2 separate regions of the Homo sapiens genome follow, and region 1 is linked to region 2. The links come from fine-mapping of genetic effects on gene expression. A gene starts in region 2. The other region holds a variant in brackets. All regions are shown on one strand. Distances are from middle to middle.

Region 1 (16,534 bases), 64 kb before region 2:
CCATGCCTGGCTAATTTTTGTATTTTTAGTAGAGACAGGGTTTCGCCATGTTGGCCAGGCTGGTCTCGAACTCCTGACCTCAGTTGATCCACCCACCTCGGCCTCCCAAAATGTTGGGATTTCGGGTGTGAGCCACTGCGTCCAGCCTGGGTTGTTAGTTTTATCATCACCCCAGCACAGTACGAGGAGGCTAACACGAAATCCTGTCTCTGGGCCCAGGAGCTGCAGGACCAGGGTGAGTACCAGTGATGCTCTGAAACTTAAGACTGGCACCCATGGGGTGGCAGAGGCCACAGCTGGTGGGGACCAGGAGTGCCTTGTGTCTGCCGCTCAGCCCTCCTGCCCTGTCAGCACACTTCCTGGCAGGGCCAGCCCTCCCCAACGCGCCCCCAGCCCTGAGGTGCAGCTTCCGCCTGCTGCCGGCCTGCCAACGGGGACACACAACTCAACCACCTCCTAAGAAACTGGCTGGTCACCAGGGTCTGGGCAGAAGCTACACCCCAGCCTGATCGTAAAAGGGGCCACCAGTGACCACCACGGCATTCACCCATCAGACAAGCGACAATTTACACACTGAGAACGCTGCTGCCCTCACGCTGCAGGGAAGGGCAGGGTACATTCACACCCCAGCGTAGGAGTGAAACCACTTTGGCAGTAGCAACCAGAACACGAAGAGGACAATGTCTGGGGTGGAGCGACCCCATGTCTGAGGGCTGCGCAGACCTAGGGTGTTTGCACAAGCACTCTGAGAGAAAGAGGGACCCTGCTGGGTTGGTGACCAGGCTGATCAACAGAAAAGACGGATGCCTGCCAACCAGAGTTTGAGAGCAGACGTCCAGGGGTGGCCATCTGCCGGGACGCCTGGTGGCCGATTAGATGGCTGGGTAGCTTCCGATGTGCACTCGGCGGTTGACACCCACTGCTTGGTGGAAGAGGCACATGCTAGGCCACGCCGCATCTGTGTTAATCTCAGTACATACATGTGCGAAGGCAGATGGGCTGGCAGAGGCTCAGAAGAGAGCACGGTTGGAGAGGAAGGGAAAAGGGACTCCTGACTGTCACTGGTGTTTACATGTTAAAAACAATAAGAACTTATCAGTCTTATAATGAAACACAGAGAAAAGTTTAACTCATTTTCAAATTCTTGTAGCTATGTAACAGCATGACCTGGTATCCACCGATGCCGAGGCCCATGAGGGGTACATGGTTATGGAACAAGAGGAGGAAGTAAACGAAGTGGCATGGAGTTTACCCCCAATTGTGTCTGAACAAGCGCCAGTGTGTGTGCTCACAGGGCACACTGCAGGGGCCGCCCCACAGTGACGGCGCAGATTGATCAGGATACTTTCCACCTCCTCATGGGTGCCATTCCAAGATTTAAGAAAAACCAAACCGACGGATGGCTTATACACTGCTTTCCCAATCAGAGGGAAAGGCTGTTTGTATTTTGGGAAACAGGAGGACCCCGCCTCTTTTCTCCCTGATGACCTATGGAGATATGGGTGCAGCTCCTCCCGGCTCCTGGGGTCCAAGACAATGTGGAGGAGGCTGGAGGACCCTCAAGCCAGGGCCGTCTCCTCGAGGTTTTGCAGGCACCCCCTTCCTTCTCCTCGACCTGGGGCCCGGCCCGCTTTTACCTGGTGAGGATTCCAGTCGCTGTCAAAAATGATCACAGTGTCTGCCGACTGGAGGTTCAGGCCGAGCCCCCCAGCCCGGGTGCTGAGCAGGAAGATGAAGTACTCAGAGCCGGGCTCGTTGAAGGTTTTCAGCAGCATGCCCCGGTCCTCCGCCTTCGTGGTTCCTGACGGGCACAGAGGAGAACAGGGTCAGCGGGGTGACCTCAGGGGTAGAGTGGGGACACCAAGGAACACCTGCTTCTGAGAGCAGGAGCAGGATCAGCACCTGCCAGCATCCCCAGATCCCTGGCTCCGCACTCTCCACACGGGCCTGTGGGCCACTGGCGAATAACTGGATTTCCAGTGTTTCACCACAAAACGTCTCTCCACACATCCCAGAAATGAAAACAGGCCCCGCTGGGAGAACTAGAGGAGGTGGGCCTGGAGCACAGAGTCCAGCACCCAGCCCACAGCTAGGCCACAGCGTCCAGCGTCAGCACAGCCACCACCACCACAGCCCTGGATTCTCTCCTCTACTCTACCCTGTGCCATTCCATGGGGAGCGGAAGACACAGCGGCCAATGCCGGCAACACCGCCGCTCGCAACACAAGGGACCTGGGGGTGGGTGGACAGTGACTGTGGGTGCACCTGCCTTCAGCCCTGTCTCAAAAAGTTTTGTGGTTCACAAAGAGAATCTTCTACGGTAAAAGCATGGAGACCTTATAAAGGGGGCTCGTGTCCTTTCTGGCAGGATCAGTGTCCCCATGCCCCAGAAAACCCAAGTCAAGGAGCCAGAGCAGGTCTCCTGGGTGACAACCCACGATGCCCTCAGCGTTGTGGGCATTAAGGCAATGTCAACACTCCCTGCGCTGCTGGGAGTTCGGACAGAGGTGCCCCTGAACACTGAAGTCATTTTGGTGATGAAATAAAAACTGGCAGGCCGGGCGCGGTGACTCATGCCTGTAATCCCAACACTTTGGGAGGCTGAGGTGGGTGGATCGCCTGAGGACAGGAGTTCGAGACCAGCCTGGCCAACATGGTGAAACCCCGTCTCTACTAAAAATACAAGAAAATTAGCTGGGCGTAGTGGCGGGCGCCTGTAATCCCAGATACCAGGGAGGATGAGGCAGGAGAATCGCTTGAATCCAGGCGGCGGAGGTTGCAGTGAGCTGAGATCATGCCACTGCACTCCAGCCTGGGCAACAAGAGTGAAACTCCGTCTCAAAAAAAAGAAGAAATAAAAACTGGCCATTTCCTGCCACCAGCCTACACATGCCCAGGCACGGTGCAGAAGCCCACAGTAGCCTGGCCATCCACCTGCCGTCCCACCCTCTCTCAGGCACCAGATGTGCCCCTGCTACTCCAGCTCGGAGGAGGGGCTGAGGTGAGGGGCCACCCGGCTCCCAGATGCCAGCCCACCCATGGGAGATGCAGTCTCAGGAGACTTCACTGAGCTCCTACCCTTCCTCTACTCGCAATGGATTCTCTGGCCCTGTGGCCATGACCACATCACATGCAGAGGACACATCTGTAGTTCAACTGACCAAAGTCCTTGTCCTTATGGAGTAGGCAGAAGGGCACTGGGATGGGTGGGAACCAGGCTCTCTCCTGGGGGAGTCAGGGACACGACACAGACGGGATGGCCCTCAGGAAGCCTTGGCCCTCTCGAGGACGGGAGAAGCCGCTGGAGAGACCGTAGGAGAGGAAAGGGTGGGGGGTGGCCCGGCCATGAGGACCCTGAAGGATTTTGGTTTTCAGCCTCAAAGCTGAAAGTGGGAAGCCCCCAAGGAAGAAGGCAAGCCGGGGAGACCCCTGCAACAGACTCGTGTCTGTAGAGTGGTCCTGGACAGAACCCCGGGGAGGACCTGCAGTTTGGAGGGACACACAGGGCACACTCCGGGTGGCACCTGGGCAGGTTGGCCCAGCAAACACAGGTCCAAGTGATCAACGGGACAAGGGGTATGGAGGTCTGGGGTGTCCTGCTGTGAGACAGACCTTGCACAGGAGCTTCAACAAAGGCTCTGGGAGGTCGTGTAGGGAACAACAAACTGGCTGAGCCGTGTCTGTCTCAGCAGCTCATGCTCGTGTTTCTCGTAAGCCCAGTTCTAGTAACTCCCACGAAGAACTCACTCCAGGGCTCCCTGACCCACTGGGACTGACAGACATGTCTCACGTGCCCTGTCGGCATCTCACAGCCTCTCCTCCCTGAGCTCCCGTGTGCTGGGGCAGGCAGGCGCAGAAACACAGGCGGTGACCTTTCCCATCAGGGACCGCAGGGCAGGGGGTTGGGCTGAGAGCCTCTCTACGGCAGCTGCTGCTCCTGCCTGGCAGTGCTTGCTTCCCTCCCTCCGTGCTCACCACAGAGTCTGATTCCAGGTCCAGGCCTGACCTGTGGCAAGGTGGCAGTCACTGGGCTGCTACGAATGGCCCAGGGATGGGCATGCGGCTCACAGCAGCTAAATGAGAGCCAGCCTGGGACCTGCCTTTGTTGGGGACACTGAGCAGGTGGAAAGGAAGCCAAGATGGAAGAAGGCAGAGCAAAGAGCTGGAGAAAAGTCTCTCCAATATCACCTGCATGCCTGGATCCAGCTGTGCCTGAAGGATGTTTAACCTCCTGGGGTTAGAGCTATGTAAGCCTATTGGTGCTTTCTTTCCTGTGTCCACATGGTATGGAATTCTGTCACTTCCAGCTAAAAGTGCACAGGGCACCCCTTCCCCAGTGCGCCCAGCATTGTCGTGGAAAGACTGTCAGCCTAGGAGTCAGGACACCCGGCGTCCAATCCACGGCCTGTCCCAGTGCCGAGTGCCCAAGATGCTCAGCCTGTGGCTAGGCCCACTCTGGCCACTGGACCCAGAGCGCCTGGGCCTCACCCTGCCTCACAGGAGGGAATGCCAGTGAGGAGCTTCTGTGGCAGCCACAACAACAAAACCCTGTAAGAAACGCCTCACTGGCTCATACTCACCATCAAGCCTGAGGTATTTAAAGCCGCGATACGCAAAGTAATCTTCCATGATGGTCATGAGGGAGGTCATTTGGCAGAACAGCAGCACTTTGTGGTTGGTTGCTCGGAGTTTGGGAAGAATTCTATCAAGAAGCTCAAATTTACCCGAGGCTCGGTACAGGTCCAGCCTGGAGTGTGGAGGAGGCAGGAGAGAAGGCGCAGGATGTTAAACCTGGAACCCTGCAGGCAGGTAAGGCAGGAGGTGCATCGCCCGCCTCCAGGCCAGGCGCCGGGTTCAAGGGCACAGACATGCATCCTAAGCAGACGTCACCCACCCAAAGCTTCAGCAAAGCCATTTCCCCCAACTGAAATAAGCCCGGCCACCCTCGCTGGGGAGGCGTATCACCAGGGTGGCACATGTATTTCTCGTCAAACCCAGACACTCATGAAAATGAGAGGAGCTGTGAGTCACATGGCCGGCACAACACGGGGCTGGAACAGGGATGCTCCGGGAAGCCAGACCTTGTCCCCTTGCCCGATAAAGAAGCCCCAGGAGCAAATGCCACACTGGAGACACCCATGCTCTGCTAGACCCAGAAGGAAGGGCCACCTCGGCTTCTCATGTTCTCTCCAGCCAAACCCCAAGTGTTGTAGATGTGGACACTGAGGCTGGCAGGGGGACGACGTGATATGGCTGACCACATGTCCAAGCCAGGCCTCCCAGCCTTGAAGCCAGGTGTACAGGACCCTGTTCCACAACTCAGTATAAAAAAACACATCAAAAAGAATTTGTGATGTTTTCATTAGGCGCCTCTCTTCTTGCAAATGGCTTACTACCCCAGGGGAATTGAATGGAGGCTTTAGCTGGAAGAATGCTTTTAGCAAGGTTCTTTGCAATGGTGAAAATCTAGACACAGCATCCACATCCATTAGGGGCTTAAAGGAGTCTGGGCTGCCCCTTACAAAGGGTGCTATAGAAAACACCCACATGATGTAAAGAGTGCCTCTGTACTAGTGAGCAGAGTTTAGGCTCAGAGAGGTTAAGAAAGCTGTCTAGAGTCACAGAGCTTGGAGGCGGCAGAGTGGGATCTGTAAGCCAGGTCTGCCTCAGGAATCCTGTCTCTTGGGGTTAATAGTGGTCAGCTCTCCAAGCACTAAAGATTTGTATAATGGGGCCGGGCGCGGTGGCTCACACCTGTAATTCCAGCACTTTGGGAGGCCAAGGCGGGTGGATCACTTGAGGTCAGGAGTTCAAGATCAGCCTGGTCAACATGGTGAAACCCCATCTCTACTAAAAATACAAAAAATTAGCTGGGTGGTGGCAGGTGCCGGTAATCCCAGCTACTCGGGAGGCTGAGGCAGGAGAATCATTTGAACCCAGGAGGCAGAGGTTGCAGTGAGCCGAGATTGTGTCACTGCACTCCAGCCTGGGCAACAAGAGCAAAACTCCACCTCAAAAAAAAAAAAAAAAAAAGATTTGTATTATTTGCTTTGGATTCTTCTGTATTTTCTAATTTTCTGCCTTTGAAATTGGACAACATAACAGCAGCAATAAAGCCAACAAAACGACAGAAAACCTCTGGGTGGACCACCTGCCCACCCCATCCAGTTGGGAAGCTTCTCACCCTTGGACAATGCCGCCAGTGAACCCCAAGTGCTCGGAAAAGGACTCCTGCAAGGCAAGGAGAGAGGGGTCAGTGACAGGCAGGAGCAGGCCACCGGGCCCCGCTGCGGTCCGCACACACCGCTCGTGCTCAGAGGACAAAGCCCCCACACTGTGTGCTCGGCACGGGCCCACGGCGGCTCTGAGACCAGACACAGATGCCAAAACCATCTTTCTTAGTCCACTGACATCCTTTCCCTCACACTCCTCCAACGAAGGAAAGGACATCCCATACAGCACTCTTCACACCCTGAATGCACGAGGACGTCATGGGGCCACAGCCACGCTCAGGGTGCTGAGACAGCCCCAGGGGCTCTCGGGGCAGCAGGCGGTCTCCAACGACCCTGACACTTTACACCAAGAAACACGAACATATGCATGCTTCTAAGAACCCAGATTCTCAAAGCCACCATGACCAAAAAGGGTTCTGACTCCCCCACACTTCACTGAAGACGGTGGTGACTCTTGACGCCCCGCAACGTGAGAAAAGCCAGTGAGCCAAAGAGACGCAGCAGGACCCCACTGTGGGGGGACACATCCCCAGAGAAGTCTCCAAACGCTCCTGCTCTCTGAGGGCAAGCTTTCAGGGCCCTATATTCCTATCGCACGTTGCGCCCTAACTGCTGGGATTCTTCCCGTAAGCACTGGTGAAGCGAAGACCAAATGAGAGACAGATGTACAGGCATTACCTAATGAAAATATTCGAGTCTGTTTTTAAAGAGCTGTCGAGGAGAAGCCAGCTCTGCCTAGGAGCTCAGCAGACAGCAGGGCCTGAGCCGTCCCAGCCGCGGCGGGCTCACCTCGATGTGCTGGAACATGTAGGGGTGGTTGCAGATCTTCCGCAGCTGCATGATGGTGTTCATCAGGGTCTTGGTGCCGCCTTTGCCCTGGAAGGCAGATGAGAGGGACCCAAATGGGGTCTTGCCCTCCTGGGGTGGGGTGGGCTTGGTGGATGGGTGGGTGTTGGGAGAAGGGCCATGGGGACGCTCTAGTGGGGAAGAGTGGCTTTTGGCACAGCAATTGGGAGTGAGGAGATGGCAGGCTGGAGGCCCGGAGGCCCCCAACAAGCCCTGGGAAACAAATGACTGCCTGGCACAGCAGAGGGCAGATGGCAGGGACAGGGCCAGCAGGACGGGACGGAAACAAGACTGGCAAAGGGCTGAGGCAGAGTCCCCGATGCTTTGTGATGCCAGCTTTGTTCTGGGCACTGTTACTGTGGGGGTCCCTAGAGGGTCTCAGCTGGGCAAGAGGGCCTCAGCCGGGTGAGCCATGACTCAGGGCTCCCTGGGCTCCAGGATGAGGAAGGAGGTGGGGGCGGGGCGGGGGGTGCATGCTCTGGGCTGGGAATGGACTAGGGAACACACTGCTGCTCAGCTCAGGGGAGAAGGGGCACAGACACAACGTCTCGGGGAAGCCAGGCCGAGGTCAAGGCCTTGGGGGCAGAATCAAGGGGTCTGGTGCATTTCCTGGGAGGATAATTTCACTGCTGGTGAGGAGAGCCAGGCAGGTGGGGCCTGGGGCCTGGGATTCTCAGAGCAGCCCCTGCAGGAGACAGCCCGCTCCCTTCCTTTCACTTAATAACAGAGAAGGGGGGCATTCTAGAACACTCTAACCCTGCTGGGGTTAGTGCTGGGCCCAGGCTGCCAATTGCAGAAGGAGCCAGTGTTTCATAGGCAAAGGAGAAGCCACTGGCAGCTGAGTCAGTGTGTCCTGACACAAGCCACCAGCCATCATAACCAGGGCTGGCCAGATGCCCTGGGGATCATGACCAGATCATGACCCGATGGTCAGAGCACGCTCTGCTCTGCCTGCCACGCTGCCGGCCTTGGACACCCAGTGGGGAATGCAGTTGGGGGACTCTGGGGCCCACCTTCTTGTCCTTCTCGGAGCCATCAGTCAGCAGCACGCCCTTGGCCTGCATGTGGCGGTAGAGCACTCGCTGCAGCGCAGACATGTCGCACTTGATGACGTACTCCACCTGCAGGGGACACATAATGCTCACGAGGGCCCAAGGTGGCTTGAGGCCTGACTCCCCCCATCCGAACCCAGCTCTGACCCCCTCGGCCCTGTCATATGAGCTCTGACCAGAGCACACTGGGGTGTGGGTGAGGAGACCCTCACAGCTGGGGAGAAGAGGGGAGACCTGGGCAATGAGAGGAAGCACCAGGCAGAGATACCAGAGGGTTACTGGGCCAGAAAGGGCCCCCCAGCCATCTTCTGGGGGCCTCTCTACAGCCAGCCAGGAAACAAAGAGCCAAGAGGGACAACTGCAGCCGGGGACCCCGAGTCCATGGGTCTTGCTGTGGGAACTGGGCCCAGGGGTGTGGCTGCAGCAGGCCTTGAAAACCCAGAGCCATGATGGGGGGCCGGGGGGCAACCCCAAGCCCACGGCCCCTCCTGATGTGGCCAGGAGAGCCCGCACAGGCACCTGGCCCCCTGACAGGAAGTGGGATTTTGTGCTCTAACCTATTGTGAGCTATGTGAGCCTATGAGTGCTTTTCAATCCCTACAACAGCAGCACAGGGCTTTACAGACCCAGTGGCGTCATCGCCACCCCCAAGCTGGATTGACCAGGGCAGGCCTGGGACTGTGGGGAGAGGCCCTGAGCACGCCCAGCCCTGGAGAAAGCCCCCACGTGAGGCTGCTTCACTGGTGGCTCCCCTCAAAACTCCATCACCTTTTCGGGCAACTGGGCCTCGACTTCCTTCTTGAGTCGTCGGAGCAAGAAGGGCCGCAGCACTTTGTGGAGACGCCGGATGATGAGAATGGTTTCCTCCTCATTCAGGTCCACCTGGAAGCCCCCAAGACAGGAGAAGCAAGCGTTACCTCCAAAGGAGGGCGACAGAGGTCTCACTAGAAGGTGCGGATGTGGGGACAGGGTGGACGGGGTCCCCTGGGGTGATCTTGCCCTTGGCACGTGGCTTTTCAGCCTGCTTTATGCTTTCTGGGAGCCAGGCAGGGCACCCTCTTCCTTAGGAAACTGTGAGGATCTGGTTCCCTCCATGTAATTCCTGGGACATGGAACCGCAGTACCCAGAGCACTCTGCTCCCTGTGCCTCACCAGAAAGACCCCCGGCAGCGGGCATGCTGCTTCTCCACGAGTAACACAAACTGGAGTGTCCACAGACCCACCCCACGCCAAGCTCATGCCAGGAGCGCTGCAGGGGCCAGGCTGACCACATGGGGCTTATAGCGGGTGATTCTCAGGGAGGGCTCTGCCACCGGGAGCCCCAAGGGACTCTCATTCAGCCTGGGTGGAACCAGG[T/C]GAAAGAAACCCTGACCTCCCACGGCGCCTACTCCTCTACTAATAATTAACTTTTAAAATGTTTTAATTAAAAAAGTTAAAGGAAAATGAGACGACGCCAAAACTTTTCTTCTATTGCTTCCCTGGCAATCCTTTGGCAGAGCTTTTGCTCGGCTCAGAAAGTGACAAAACTATAGCATCAGATCCTGGCCCTTAGTGTGGGGGTCCCGGGAGTCTAAAAATTGGGGACTCCTTTATCACGAGGCTTTGGGGAATGCCTCGGTTTCGCCATCAGAAGAGTCTCTGCCTTGACCAGCAGCCGAGAGGGCAGGGAACTCACGCATGAGGCCAGGAAGGCCCCAGCTGCCCTGGACCTGTCTAAGGTGGGAAGAAGGGGGTGGGCCCAGCCGTGCTGGGCAGGGCACTTCGAGGTAACCTCTGTAGTTCTGCCCACACTTCAGCATCTGGTTACTTAAACCCCTCAGCAGGAAACACAGTCTGTCCCACAGTTTCAACCTCCAACAGCAAGGAGCTCTAGGCTCAGGGATCAGTGCTGGTGTGGGACCACTCATCAATGATGATGCTGCCATGCCACAGTCTGGCTGATGGTGCCACCCAGACATTGAGACACACTGGCCACTGAGCTTTTTGAAAACAACGTAAGACAGAACCTGACCATGTGGCCCCGCTAACTGGAATCTTCCAAGTTTCCTTCCCACTGCCCTGAGGGTGAGTTCTGAGGGCACCTAAAGGGGCCTACAGCACGCTACAGCCTCTAGCTGTGCTCTCCACACGCTTGCGGTCCCACAGCTGCCTCAGGGCCATCTTCCTCACCATCCACTCTGCACCTGGAGCATAGGGTCAGAGACGCCCCGAGCATTCCGAGATTCACCACCATGACCTCTGCCCTGCTCCCCTGGGGCCCTTGTGGCTGCCCCAGCCTTGGGTTCCAGGGCTCCCCTGCTCCATGCAGATGCAGACTCTCACCAGGCACCCAGCACAGGCCCAGCCAGCTGTAGCTGGTGCTCAACACGTTCCAACCAGCAAAGCCAGCCGCACCTGGAACCGTCAGCATGGGCACAGCTGGGCAAACCCACCTTTTCCCCGGTCATGGCAAAGGGTGCGTTAAACCACTGCTCGAAGGTGCTGCAGCTCTTGAAGATGGTGGGCAGCAGGAAGTTGAGCAGCGCCCAGAGCTCGGGAAGCTTGTTCTGCAGCGGTGTGCCCGTCAGCAGCAGGCGGCGGGGTGCCACATAGTGCGTGTTGAGCACCTGCGTCAGCTTGCAGTGGTGGTTCTTCATGCGGTGACCTTCGTCCACAATCATGTACTTCCAACGGATCTGCGGGCCCCAGAGTGGGCAATCAGGGCAGGGGGCAGCAGGTGGCCCGGCACATGGGGAGAATCTCCCACTCTGCGCCCAGCAGCCAGGAAGGCTCCAGGTGGAAGAGCGCAGCTGGGTGGAGAGCACAGGCCTGACGTCCTGCCCCGGGGCTGACTCACCGAGTTGGAGCCACACAACGTAGCCTCTTGCAAGCCTTGGGCAGAGACAGGCCCGTGACCCCATGACTATTGGCAGGTGAACAATGCAAATTGCAAAAAAGCAATCTGGCTTCCCTGCAAAATCACACATATGAATCTACAGCACAGAAAAATGCCGAGCACGTTCTGGCAGAAGACACATCTTGCTGACTGGGGGACTTGTCCTGCTGGTGTGGAGGGTCTCAGGGGAACTGGGTTGGTGACGGTACATTTCTAATGAGCAGCCTGTGGTTCAGAATGTGGGCCCCATGGGGTAGGGGCCAGCGCCACTACATACAGGGCCATGCGGGTCGGGAGGGGGCGCAGTGGCCGCACTCAAAGAGCACTCCCACTGCAGGGTGATTACATCAACTGAGCCACTGGCAGGGGAGCACGGGGTTTCAGAGCCTGGTTCCTGTGCCTGCCAACGGCCTGGCTTTGTAAGGAGTCAGCAGGGGTGAGCCACAAAGGAGGCACCTGAAGCATGGACCTGAGGTAAGAGCCTGCACGTGGGATACCCAGCTCCCTGGGCCTCAGTTTCCTCCCTTGTTGGCTCCGGGATAAAGCACCCAGTCCTCGGAAGGCTGAGGCAGGAGAATCACTTGAACCCAGGAGGCAGAGGTTGTTGCAGTGAGCTGAGATCGCTCCACTGCACTCCAGCCTGGGTGACAGCTGTGAGACTCTGTCTCAATAAAAAAAAAAAAGAAGAGAAAAAGAAAAGAAAACACCCAGTTCACAGCCCCAGTATTCCAGTACTGTCACTCCAGCCATGCACTGAGAGGCGGAGCCACCCATAAACAGCTCCTCCATCCCCCCATACCTGGGTCAAGAACTCTACTGTTAGGCCAGACACAGTTGCCCAGTGCTTTGTGAGGCCAAGGCGAGAGGATTCCTTGAGGCCAGGAGTTTGAGACCAGCCTGGGCAGTACAGCAAGACCCCATCTCCATAAAAAATAAATTTAAAAAAGTTAGCTGGGAGTGGTGGCGCACACCTGTAGTCCCAGCTACTCAGGAGGGTGAGGTGGGAGGATCGCTTGAGGCCAGGAGGTCAGGCCTGCAGTGAGCTGTGATCACATCACTGCACTCCAGCATGGGCAACAGAGCGAGACTCGGTCTCAAAAAAAAAAAAACCAAAACGCAAAAAACTCTCTACTGTTCAACACTCACTCAGCTGGATGTTTAGGGGTGAGACCAGGTACATCTTTACCCCTCCTCAAATGAGGAACATGAGTTTTTGGAGGCAGAGGGCTATGTCTGTTTTCTATCTGGGCCGTATTCTCAGTCATGGCCACGCTGGGACTCCCTTCACAGTTTCGTCCCAGAAGAGGCTTCCAGGACAGTAGGACCCTCACAGAACAGCCCGAACCAGCTGCCCAAGGCCAGCAGGCAGTCATGGTATTTGGCCCTCGAGCTCTCCCCCACATGCTGAATCTCAGCCCATGGCCTGTGGTGAGAAGCCAGGGCCCCAGGGAGGGACGGCCAAGGCAATGAGACAGGAGGACAAGACTGGTCTGGCCAAGGCCCCATGGGGACTCTGTAGGCGGGTCAGGAGACGCCTTGGTGCTGAGGCTCTCTGGGCAGAAGGCCCGAGAGGAGGCAGAGCGCATGCTGTGTAGATGGCCCCAGCTTCTGGGCCTGACTCAGGGCCTGCCTGGAGACAGTTAGGGAGGTAAACCTGAGGTCGCCCCCACCTAGGCCTTTCCCCTACACAGGGCAGCTGTCTTCACGCACATGCAGGTGGGACTCCGGGAAGAAACTTGTAGGGGCTTTGGAGGAGACGGGCAGCGTGACCCACGTGTGAGCACTCGGCCCATGGCCTGGCATTTCCCACAGGGACACGTTACCTTGGCGAGGATGTGCTTGTCTTTGATGATGTACTCGTACGTCGTCAGCAAGACGTTGAACTTCCCACTCCGGAGCTGGGGGACAAAGGCCCGTCTTGCTGCTGGGGATCCCTGCAAGGGAAGCAGGATGCACAGCTCGGCTTTTGGAGCCGGGTGGCCAGGTGGCAAGAGGGGCACAGGCACCCCCTGCAACTGCCCAGTGACACGGCGGGAGGGCTCGTCCTCACAGGGGTAGTGGGGAAAGGGGCTGGCAGGGCCGCTGGCGCGTCCCCAGACCTCACCACGCAGAACACGCGCTGCAGGGGGAAGAGGAAGCAGTGCAGGCCAGCGGCGGCCGGGGCCTGAGGGAACCACGCAGCCTGCACCGCCATCTGCACATTCCTGGTGGCTGACAGGCTCCCCTCTTCCTGGGTCCCCATCTCAGGCGCCTGAGCTGGCCTCTGAGTGCTGGCCACCATGCTCACTCCTGTCTCCTCCCCAGTGAGCTAATCTGCCCTGTCCCTGCCCAGTCCAAACTCCCGGATCCATGTGACTGGAGTTCCAGGCTGTCCTGGAGACTCCATGCGACTGGAGACCCAGCATTCTCAGGTTCACTGTCCAGAGGTATGTGTGGACGTCCTGCCCACCACCGCCTGCACCTCCGTAGCAAGAGAGGAAACCTCAGTGGCTGTGACCTACCTTGTAAGACACCTTCACCACGGAGGGGGCCCACTTGTCAAACTCGTACGCCCAGTTGGACAGCGTTCTGATGGAACAAGGAAATGAGAGTCAAGTGCCGGTCTCTCATCAATGGCTCACTGTGCAAACCCATAGCCACTGGCTGTCAGGGGCGAGGCCAACATGGCCACAGCCCTCCGAGTGGGCAGAGAAACTGTGTTTAGGGCAGCTGAGGGAGGGAGGGAGGAAGAGAGACTGGCGAGGACGTGAAGGGCTCTGCCTCAGAGGACAGAAGGGAGGCCACTGGGAAAAGAGGGCAAGGCCCTTTAGAGTGAGAAGTAGGGACACAGAGATGTGATGGGGGACAGAAACAATGCTGCCAGGGCTGGGGAAGCCTGGACCTGCTGCCGGGAAAATGCAGCTTCAGAGCACAGGCTTCACGCCCAGAGCCAGGCTAGCAACAGTGCTGTGGAGACCTGAGGATATAGGAGACACCAAACAGTCTTTCTGCCACCCTCCAGCCACGGAAGGTTCCTGACTGTGAGAGAGAACGAGGACAGTGAGGGGCGAGGCGGGGCCTGGCTCAGGTGGCAGGCGGGAGGACAGGGATGGGAGGGAGCGGCAACTCGTGGCTGTTCCCCTGTGGGATGACCAGGGCTGGAATGAGGGAGGACATGGGGGCAGGCAGAATGCAGTGGGGAGGGGTGAGTCACCTGAGACCGACAGCCTAGAGACTGAGGAGAGGGTGGAGGCGGTAATAAAGCTGAGTCCCAAAGGGGACGGGCTCTGGGAGGAACTCTGGGGCAGGGAGTTTTCAGTGGGGGAGGGAAGCCACTCAGAAAGTCTAGACGGGGTGGTCCGTAAAGACAGGGCTCGAAGCTGGAGTCCCAGGGACTACTCGTGGTTTGCCCCCAAGCAGCTCCACGAGGGAGGTGCTGTGTCCACCATGAACCCATCTCCAGCCCCGCTGGAAGCCACAGCCAACCAGGCGGCACAGCCAATAGACAGAAGGACGCATGGCTGTGGTGAAGGCTGGGGAGAGTTCCTGAAGAAGCGTGGGGAGCAGAGGCTCAGCAGCCTTGCGCTTCTGCTGCCTTTTGCCCTGCCCACTCTCCTAGAACTCTTTCCTGCCCACTCTCCTGCATGAGGCGAGGGAGGCAGTGCAGCCGTCCTGCAACCATGAGGTAAGGAGCCTGAGGGTTGGAGTCACCCAAGAATGACTGGGCAGAAACCTGGGGGAGGCTGGGTCCCTGATGGCATCTTGGAGCCACCGGACCTGGCCCGTAGGGCCTGACCCTGTGCTTCCGCTGACTCAGGAACAGTGAAACCTCCCTGGAGTGATGGGGACAGTCAGCGCACCAAGGGAGAAGCCGGAGGTGTGCGGAGCATCTGCACTGGGAGGGAGAAGAGCCAGGAGCAAGGGTCAGGAGGGGACTGAGGGGACAGGTCCCAGAGACAGAGGTCCAAACGGAGGCAGGACAAGCAGCTCATGGCAGGAGGCAGCAATTCCCAGTGAGAGGGCCGGCACAGCCGGATGCCCATACGCCGTAAACATTTCCTAGCGCGCGGGCCCTCTTCTGGCCTGCAGGAGCTGGCGTTCCACAGCATGGACGCTTGCCCAGGTGGGGCGCAGTGGGAAAGACTGCAGGAGCACCCACCTCACAACCTCACTGAAGTAGGGGAAGAAGGTGACCTCTATCACCCTGGAAATGGAATCTGACTGCAATCTGGAGGTCTGAACACACAAGGAACTGGCCCCAAGGCCTGCGCTCTAGTGGCTCAAGATGCTTCCCGGAGGTACCGGCTCACTACTCTGAAACTGTTGTCCACGGAAGCTGAGAATGGGCGCACACACAGGGTGGAAGTGTGAGAAGGAACCTGTGGTCCTCACTCAGAGCCGCAGACAGTGGTATGAACTCACGTTCAGCTTAACACAGAAACAGATGCCGAGGCAGAGAAGGCCTTTTAGACGATACGTGCACAAAGCATCAGCACGCGCACATGAATCTCCTAGCACTGACCACTGAGAGGGCCCCAGGAGCAATGACACCCCAGAAGCAACAGGCCCATCCAGGACCCAGGTCTTGGTTCCCAAAACCATTCTGTAAGAAGGGAAACCAGGGCTCCTTGGAGAAATGGCTGATTTGAGGGAGTGGGCGGGAAATAGACTACATGAGCCTGCAGCATCTCTTGGTGCCAAAAAGCAAGAAAGTCCTCAAAATTCACCCGATGCTGGGGGCGTGTCAAAGGACAGAAGAGCCAACTGAAAGCACTCCCAGTGGCCAAAGCTGGATGGATTTGAGCCACAAAACAAAAAAAACCCAGCCACTGGTGCGTAGCCTGGAGTACTAAATAAATATCCGTGGGTCCATACTCATATTAACAAATGACTGAATACATAGAGAAGACACAATTCTTCCAGGGAGAATTCTCCCAGGCCAAATCTGAAAAAAACTGAAGCAACAAAATAAATAATATTTGTTCACGCCCACACTGATATAATAATTACCCAAACAAGCACATGGGGGAGACGGGAAAGCTCTTCCTAACGGTGGAATTCCAATTAATTTGTAGAGAAGAGCGGACAGAAACAGGTAACCATGTATTTGGCAACTCTCATGTAATTATTTTTTCAGGCAAGACTTATCTGACGTTTGCTGCTATAGTTTGGGTATCTGGCACCTCCAAACCTCATGCTGAAGTCTGATTTCCAATGTTGGAGGTGGGGCCTGGTGGGAGGCATCTGTGTCATGGGGGCCTCCCTCGTGAACGGCCTCGTGAACCCTCGTGAACGGCCTGTACTGTACTGGGGATGGGGGATGAATGAGTTCCTGCTCTCTGAACTCTCGTGGGAGCTATGGTTAAAAGGAGCCCGGCACCCCCGCCTCCCTCGCCTCCTCCCTCCCCATGGGATCTCTACACACTGGCTCCCCTTTGCCTTCCACCAGGAGTGGAATCCGCCTGAAGCCCTCACCAGGTGCCCAGTCTTCCAGCCAGCAGAATCATGAGCCAAATAAACCTCTTTTTTTTTTTGAGAAGGCGTTTCAT
Region 2 (9,032 bases):
AGACCAGGAGGCGGAGGTTGCAGTGAGTCAAGATCGCACCACTGCACTCCAGCCTGGGCGACAGAATGACTCTGTCTCATAAGAAAAAAAAAAAAAGAGGCCGGGCGCGGTGGCTCATACTTGTAATCCCAGTACTTTGGGAGGCCAAGGGCCAAGGTGGGTGGATCAGTTGAGGTCAGGAGTTCAAGACCAGCTTGGCCAACATGATGAAATCCCATCTCTACTAAAAATACAAAACTTAGCCAGGTGTGGTGGTGCACACCTGTGATCCCAGCTACTCAGGAGGCTGAGTCAGAAGAATCGCTTGAACCCGGGAGGCAGAGGTTGCAGTGAGACGAGATCGTGCCATTGCACTCCAGCCTGGGCAACAAGAGTAAGATTCCGTCTCAAAAAAAAAAGAAAGAAAGAAAGAAAGTTCCACCAGACATCTGCCCAAAACCCTAGTCCCTCCCATGCTCCCACCTCCCACAAACAGCCAAAACATGGAATGGTCTAAGGTTATCTCCTGGTGTTTTGAGGGTTCCCAAGGAGAAGCAAAGGTACACAAATAAATTGTAAATAAATACACATATGTTGGAATGCTCCTCACTGACAAGAAGTTTAGAGACCACTGCACTGCCCTATATCACAATTCTGATGACATCACCTCCCCTGCTCAAAAGCCTGCACGATCAACATTTACGTCTCCTAAAGGGCTGGACACAAAATGATTTTAGGTGGCCCATGCAAAACCATTTATTACTTTCCTAACTATGCATGAATTAATTTTTATTCCTTTTTTTAGACAGGGTCTCGCTTCGTCACCCAGGCTGGAGTGCAGTGGCTCAATCATGGTCCACTGCAGCCTGTACCTCCTGCCCCAGCCTCTCAAGGAGCTTGGGACTACAGGGGCATTGCACTCCAGCCCGGATGACAGAGCGAGACTCCGTCTCAAAAAAAAAAAAAAAATCAAGTGTTCACTACGCATCAGGTGCAGCAGTGTGTTAGCGGCTTCCCATGTGACCTCATTCAACCCTCACAAGAAGCCTGTGAAGTTTCGGGCATCCTCGTCCTACCTGTTTCACAAGTGGGGGGCCCTACTGCTAAGCGCCTCGCTTGAGGTTAAGCTACGATTTAGAGAGCTGGGTGTGAATTCAGGAGGTCTGATTCCAGAATGAGTACTCCTTACCACCACCCCACGCTAACCACCACCCCACACTTTGTAGGGGAGATGAGGACAACTGAGGTTCAGGAAACAATGGCTTGGAAAGTGCAAAAACTGTTCAAACAACTAACCTGTATCCCTTACAATCCACCCCCAGTCCTGCACCAAGCTTTCTTTTTCTTTTTTTTTTTTTTTTTTTTTGAGACAGTCTTACTCTGGTGCACAGGCTGGAATGCAGGGGCACAAGAATGGCTCACTGCAGCCTCCACCTCTCTGGCTCAAGCAGTCCTCCTACCTCAGCCTCCTGAGTAGTTGGGACCACCGGTGCATGCCACCACACTCGGCTAATTTTTGTATTTTTTGTAGAGATGAGGTCTCACTATGTTGCCCAGGTTAGTCTCAAACTCCCGGGTTCAAGCAATTTTCCCGCCTCAGCCTCCCCAAGTGCTGGGATTTCAGGTATGAGCCACTGCACCTGGCCCTGCACCAAGCCTTTTACACAGATGGTCACGCGATCTTCCACAGGACCCCCTCATTCAATCCACATAAGTTCGCTAAAGACCTACTATGTGTCAGGCCCAGGGTACTGTGGGGCCAGCCAGGCAGACACAACCCCAGCTCTCACGGTGCTGGGGGTGACAGCTACACCGGAAAGGACCAAGTTGATGTATGAATGTAGCTGAGGGGAACAATGGCTAGTCCGAGGTGGCCAGGGAAAGTCAAAATACAATCCTGGCGCAGTGGCTCACACATGTAGTCCTAGCACTTTGGGAGGCCGAGGTGGGTGGATCACCTTAAGTCAGGAGTTTGAGACCAGCCTGGCCAACATGGTAAAACCCCATATCTACTAAAAATACAAAAATTAGCCAGGCGTGGTGGCGGGCGCCTGTAGTCCCAGCTACTCAGGAGGCTGAGGCAGGAGAATCGCTTGAACCCAGGAGGCGGAGGTTACAGTGAGCGGAGATTGGGACTCTGAACTCCAGCCTGGGCGACAGGCAAGACTCTGCCTCAAAAACAAAATACAATCCTACACACCCTCCCTGATTTTGAGGCCCCCTCTTCCAAGCAGCCCCCGTGATCTCTGGCTACCACCGATCCCCTGCCTGTCCGCTGTGTCCCTCTCACAGTGCAGGTTCAGAGCAATAAACGATAGGCCAAGAGAGTTTGTTCCCACATTTACCACCCGCTCCCCTCCAAGACTGCAGAGGCTCCAGGATCCAACCCCCGACCATCCAACACTTAGTAGGGCCTCAAGAAGTTATCTGCTGAACAATGAGGGAGATTGGACCAGACAATTACAATAGTGCTTCCCGCTTGCGAGGAACCATTTTACAGGCTTTCACCAATTCCATTTGGGAGATTACCCCCTTTCACAAAGGAGCTTTCACAAAGGAGGAAAACTAAGAGGTTCAGAGAGGTTAAGCCACTTCCCTAAAGTGACAGTGTGCTAAGTGACTGACAGCACCAGGAATCAAGCTTGAATGCAGCCTATCAATCCAAACTGAAAACTTGCTTCAAATTCCTGCGAAGCGGCTTTTCCGCTTATTCCCTTGCTACTTTCCCCAAGGAGTCACTGACCAAAAAAAAAAAAAAAAAAAATCAAGACTGGTATCTTCAAGATCGGGACAAAACACTCGCCCAAAAGGTCCACGTTGAAAATAAAAGCCTTAATCTGAAAAACCAATTGGGAAGGAGAAAAAAGGATGCAAAAGAAAAGCAATGCTTTTACACAGCAAAGGATTTCCTCCGTGCTCCCCTACTTGCCGCCGACCCCATCCCCAACCCCAATTCGGGCAAACATTTTGAAGTCACTAACTGCAAGGCATCGGGGGAGTCCTTTACCTTTCCTTGAAAATCTGGAATGACACGTTTTTAAGACAATTTGAGGTCGGCTAGCCCAAGGGGACCGCTAATGCCCGTGTCCGGCCGACGCCGGACATATCTGGAGGTTTGGCTGAGCCCCGATCGCAGCTTCGCCAAAAACGCAACATTCGGGTCGGACCCGTTACCACGCAGCCAGAAAAGCCCCAACGCCTGCCTATTGTTGCAGCCGCTGTAATTGGGAGGGCGACTGTAGGGGTGCCGGGCGAGGGGGGCGAGCTTTGTCCGGCGACCCCGGCGAGAGCGCGCGCGGAGAGGATCGCGCGGCCTCCACGCGGCCCGGGCCCCCCACCCACCCCGCCGCTCCGCGGGGGCCGCCGCTGCCACGGCCTCGCGACACTGTGGCCTTCCCCACGCGCGCGGCTGCCGGCTGGGCTTCTTGACCCTCGGGCGCCGCCGTACCCCGGCCCCGCACAGGGCGCGCCGGCAGCCCCCTCCCCCCTCGGCGCCCCGGCTCCATTCAAACCGCCCTCCCCGGCCCCGCGCCGCGCTGCCCCCGCGGCCCGCGTTCCTTACCAGGAGCCGCCGGCGCCGTCGACTTCCCGGCGCCTCCCCCGCCCCTCCGCGCGGGGCCGGGGGCAGAATGGGCGTCTCGCTTCTCTTCACGAAACAAAGAAGCCGCCGCCGCCGCCAAACGAGGGGAAGCCTCGCGCGCGCGCCCGCCCGCCTCGGCCACCGCCCCCCCTTCACACACACGCGCGCCACCCGCGCCCCCGCTGCGCGCGCGCTCGCCGGCTCCCCTCCCCCTCAGCACCGCGGCGGCCTCTCCAGCTTCCGCCGCCTGCCCGGCCTCGTGCGCGCGCCAGCCCGCCCTTCCGCTCCCGGCGCGCGTGCGCGCCCGTCCCTGGGCGGACGGGGGTGGGCGTGGCCCGGAGGAAGCACGCGCGTCCGATGCACCGCCCCACTCGGGCCGCGATGGCCCCGCGCCTGCGCACGCTTCGCCTTCTGCACGCCTCGCGTCTTGACGCCCCGGAGCATGCGCAGAGCGGACGCCACTGCGGCGGCGGTGGCGGCGGCCGCGGTGACGATGGGGCAACTGGAGAATGGGATCCCGGTGGCCGTGGGGTCCGTGGGGAAAGGAGGTCCCTGAGGCTCGGAAATAGGAACCCTGGACCGTAGGACGGGCCGCCTGGACCAAGACCGGGCAGTGGTTTCCCGCGGGCCAAGGGCGCGCCTGGGAACCGCTTTGATCCCTGACCTGGGGCGGCGAGGCCTATTTGGGGAGGCAAGGCGGGGCCCGACCGTGGCCGCCTTCTCTGCAAAACTTCCCAAGTGCCATTAATTAGCTTAGCAAATATTTATTGATCTGCTACTGTGTCCCAGCCGCCGTGGAGCCCTCGGTCTAGTGGGGAAGGAGGACAAGAAGCAAGATTAATAAGCAAAATAGTGCAGTATGAGAGGCCGGACTTGGTGGCTCACGCCTGTAATCCAGCACTTTGGGAGGCCGAGGCGGCCGGATCACCTGAGGTCGGGAGTTAGAAACGAGCCTGACCACCATGGTGAAACCCGTCTCTATTAAAAATACAAAAATTAGCCGGGCGCGGTAGCTCATGCCTGTAATCCCAGCACTTAGGGAGGCCTAGGCTGGTGGATCATGAGGTCAGGAGATGAGACTATCCTGGCTAACACGGTGAAACCCCGTCTTTACTAAAAATACAAAAAATTAGCCGGGCGTGGTGGCACACGCCTGTAGTCACAGCTACTCGGGAGGCTGAGGCAGGAGAATCGCTTGAGCCCAGGAGGTGGAGATTGTAGTGAGCCGAGATCGTACTATTGCACTCCAGCCTGGGCAACAAGAGTGAAATTCCGTCTCAAAAAAAATAAATAGTACAGTGTGAGGTGAACACTGGGAGGATCATGGACATTTTAAATAGGGCAGCCACGGAAGTCGTCGTTGCAAAGAACACGTTTGAATGCATACAGGCTGGTGGTGAAAGAGAGAAACCTTCCTCCGAGAGTGAAGGCCCTGAGCCTCTTGGCCTCTTCTGTGTGTTTTCTTTTTTGTGTGTTTGTTTGTTTGTTTGTTTGTTTGTTTGTTTGTTTTGAGACGGAGTCTTACTCCATTGCCCAGGCTGGAGTGAGGTGGCACGATCTCAGCTCACTGCAACTTCTGCCTCCCAGATTCAAGCGATTCTCCTGCCTCAGCCTCCCGAGTAACTGGGACTACAGGCGTCCGCCACCACGCCCGGCTAATTTTTGTATTTTTAGTTGAGACAGAGTTTCACCATGTTGGCCAGGCTGGTTTTTAACTCCTGACCTCAAGTGATCCGCCCACCTCAGCCTCCCAAAGTGTTGGGATTACAGGCGTGAGCCACCTCACCTGGGTGGGTTTTTGTTTAATTGTTTGTTTTATTAGAGACAGGGTCTTGCTCTGTAACCCAGGCTGGAGTGCAATGGTGTAACCACAGCTCAGTGCAGCCTCAAACTCCTGGACTCAAGGGATCCACCTCAGCCTCCCAAATAGCTGTGACTACAGGTACATGCCACCACCACCAGCTTTTTTTTTTTTTTTTTTTTTTTGTCTGTTATGTTCTGTAGAGCTGAGGTCTGCTGTGTTACCCAAGCTGGTCTCAAACTACTGGGCTCAAGCAGTCCTCCTGGCTCAGCCTCCCAGTGCACTGGGATTACAGGCATGAGCCACCAAGCCAGGCCCCAGAAGGACCTGGGTTTAAAACACGACTCCATTTCTACTACCTGGGTGATGCATGGGTAATACCAGGCAGGTTTACCAGAGCATCTACACCTCACTTTCTTCACCTGTGAAACAAACAATAAGGCTGGGTGCGGTGGCTGACATCTGTAATCCCAGCACTTTCGGAAGCCAAGGTGGGCAGATGACCTGAGGTAAGGAGTTCGAGACCAGCCTGGCCAACATGGTGAAACCCCGTTTCTACTAAAAATACAAAAAAATTAATTAGCCAGGCATAGTGGCAGGTGCCTGTAATCACAGCTACTCGGCAGGCTGAGGCAGGAGAATTTCTTGAACCCAGGAGGTGGAGGTTACAGTGAGCCAAGATCATGTCATTGCGCTCCAGCCTGGGTGACGAGAGTAAAACTCCATCTCAAAAAAAAAAAAAAAAAAAAAAAATGCTGGGCCCAGTGGCTCACGTCTGTAATCCCAACACTTTGGGAGGCCAAGGCAGGTGGATCATGAGGTCAAGAGATTGAGACCATCCTGGCCAATGTGGTGAAACACCATCTCTACTAAAAATACAAAAATTAGCTGGCTGTGGTGGCGCGTGCCTGTAGTGCCAGCTACTCAGGAGGCTGAGGCAGAATTGCATGAACCCAGGAGGCGGAGGTTGCAGTGAGTCGAGCGTGCCACTATACTCCAGCCTGGTGACAGAGGGAGATTCCGTCTCAAAAACAAAACAAGACAAAACAAAAAAAACCCACCAGAAACAATAATGGCTCCCACTTCCACTGTTTGGTTATGAGGAATCATGACAGCAGGTAGCCCACCTGCTAGCTCTCTGATCCTCAGCTAGTGTTATTGAATAGTGCACAGTAAGTGAGCAAGTAGAAGTGGGATCTGAACTCGATTCCTCATTCATTCAAGTAGTTATTTTTTTGTTTTTTTGTTTTTGTTTTTGAGACACAGGCTTGCTGGGTCATCCAGCCTGGACTGCGGTGGCACGATCAGTACTCACTGTAGCCTCGACCTCCTGGGCTCAAGCGATCCTCCTGCCTCAGCCTCCCGAGTAGCTTGGACTACAAGGGTGGGACACCACACTCAGCTAATTTTCTTAAAATTTTTTGTAGAGACAGTCACACTATGTCGTCCAGGCTGGTTTCAAACTCCTGGGCTCAGGTGATCCTCCCACCTCAGCCTCCCAAAGTGCTGGGATTACAGGCGTGAGCCAAGGCGCCCGGCCAAATAGTATTTCTTATGCTCTCTCCAAATGCTAAGCATTGAGCTAGGAATACCCTGCAGCAATGCATGGAGGAGGCAGGGTTGCTGCCCATGGAGTGGATGGTATGACTGTTCTCTAATTGTCTTTTATGCTAATCACACTAATATGCAATAGTGTAAAGAAAAACAGGCCGGGCCAGGCGCGGTGCCTCACGCCTGTAATCCCAGCACTTGGGAGGCCGAGGCAGGCGGATCACCTGAGGTCAGGAGTTCAGGACTAGCCTGACCGACGTGGAGAAACCCTGTCTCTACTAAAAAAATACAAAATTAGCCGGGTGTGGTGGTGCATGCCTGTAATCCCAGCTACTTGGGAGGCTGAGGCAAGAGAATCGCTTGAACCCAGCGGGCAGAGGTTGCGGTGAGCTGAGATCATGCCGTTGCACTCCAGCCTGGGCAACAAGAGCGAAACTCCGTCTCAAAAAAGAAAAACAGGCCGGTTGTGGTAGCTCATGCATGCCTATAATGGCAGTACTTTGGGAGGCCCAGGCTGGCAGATCACTTGAGGACAGGCGTTCAAGACCAGCTTGGGTAACATTGTGAAACCCCATCTCTACAAAGCAATACAAAATTTGCCAGGTGTCTCAATTAAGAGCACAGTTCTTAATAATGAACTGCCCCTGGGACCTTGGCCCCATGTCTGCATTGACACCCTTGGCTTCCAGACTTTAAAAAAAAAACATCTACAGGCTGGGCGCAGTGGCTCACGCCTGTAATTCCAGCACTTTAGGAGGCCGAGGCAGGCAAATCACAAGGTCAGGAGCTCGAGACCAGGTCAATATGGTGAAACCCTGTCTCAACCAGGCACGGTGGCTCACGCCTGTAATCCCAGCACTTTCTCTGGGATCGCAAGGTCAATATGGAGTTCGAGACCTGGTCAATATGGTGAAACCCCGTCTCAGCTGGGCGCAGTGGCTCACACCTGTAATCCCAGCACTTTGGGAGGCCGAGGCGGGCAGATCACGAGGTCAGGAGATCGAGACCATCCTGGCTAACACAGTGAAACCCCGTCTCTACTAAAAATACAAAAAAATTAGCCAGGCGTAGTGGCAGGCGCCTGTAGTCCCAGCTACTCAGGAGGCTGAGGCAGGAGAATGGCGTGAACCCGGGAGGCACAGCTTGCAGTGAGCTGAGATCCCGCCACTGCACTCCAGCCTGGGCGACAGAGCGAGAGTCTGTCTCTAAAAAAAAAAAAAAAAGAGAGACCCCGTCTCTATTAAAATACAAAAATTAGCCAGGTGTGGTGTCAAGCACCTGTAGTCCCAGCTACTCGGGAGGCTGAGGTAGGAGAATCGCTTGAACCCAGGAGGCGAAGGTTGCAGTGAGCCAAGATCACACCACTGCACTCTAGCCTGGGCGACAGAGACTCCATCTCAAAAAAAAAAAAAAAAGAAGGGGAGGAGAGGGCAGGGCAGGGGAGGGGAGGGGAGAGGAGGGAACGGGAAGTGGGGGAGGGGAATCATCCCAGAGGAGAATGGATTTTTTTTTTTTTTTTTTTGGCGCAATTTCCGCTAACTGCAAGCTCCGCCTCCCAGGTTCACGCCATTCTCCTGCCTCAGCCTCCTGAGTAGCTGGGACTACAGGTGCCCGCCACCACGCCAGGCTAATTTTTTGTATTTTTAGTAGAGACGGGGTTTCACCGTGTTAGCCAGGATGGTCTCGATCTCCTGACCTCGTTATCTGCCCACCTTGGCCTCCCAAAGTGCTGGGATTACAGACATGAGCCACTGCGCCCGGCCTTCTTCTTTTTTTTTTTTTTTTTTGTTTTTTGAGACGGAGTCTTGCCCTGTCACCCAGGCTGGAGTGCAGTGGCTCAATCTTGGCTCACTGCAACCTCCACCTCCCACCTCCCAGGTTCAAGAGATTCTCCTACCTCAGCCTCCTGAGTGGCTGGGATTACAGGTGGATTCTTCTCTTTTACTCAAAGATGAGGGCTTGAAATAACAACTCACCCAAGTCCAGAACATGAAAATGTAAAATACATTGACTTCAGTTGCCACTGCAAGTTAAACACCTTTTCAGTAATATCTCCAGATCTTCCTTGGAATATGAAATCACTCATTAGTTAACAAAATGTGCATTTATTCATCAAAAATG

Evidence for each region.
Region 1: its variant is fine-mapped to the expression of SMARCA4 in whole blood (TOPMed, PIP 0.92).

What each region holds. Positions count from the first base shown.
Region 1 is chr19:11,015,997-11,032,530 of GRCh38, reverse strand. SMARCA4 (SWI/SNF related BAF chromatin remodeling complex subunit ATPase 4) reads right to left here. Exons shown (of 35, transcript NM_003072.5): 17 at 13,508-13,574; 18 at 12,830-12,940; 19 at 10,564-10,806; 20 at 8,900-9,013; 21 at 8,093-8,200; 22 at 7,023-7,109; 23 at 6,185-6,231; 24 at 4,581-4,747; 25 at 1,638-1,801. Among named protein-coding and RNA genes, the nearest start is that of SMARCA4, 63 kb to the right of the region's middle. RefSeq lists an enhancer at 3,887-4,387. The variant T/C (reference allele first, on the strand shown) is at 9,488.
Region 2 is chr19:10,955,684-10,964,715 of GRCh38, reverse strand. SMARCA4 (SWI/SNF related BAF chromatin remodeling complex subunit ATPase 4) reads right to left here and starts at 3,686. Exons shown (of 35, transcript NM_003072.5): 1 at 3,542-3,686. RefSeq lists an enhancer at 672-801 and silencers at 3,319-3,378, 3,429-3,488, 3,539-3,958.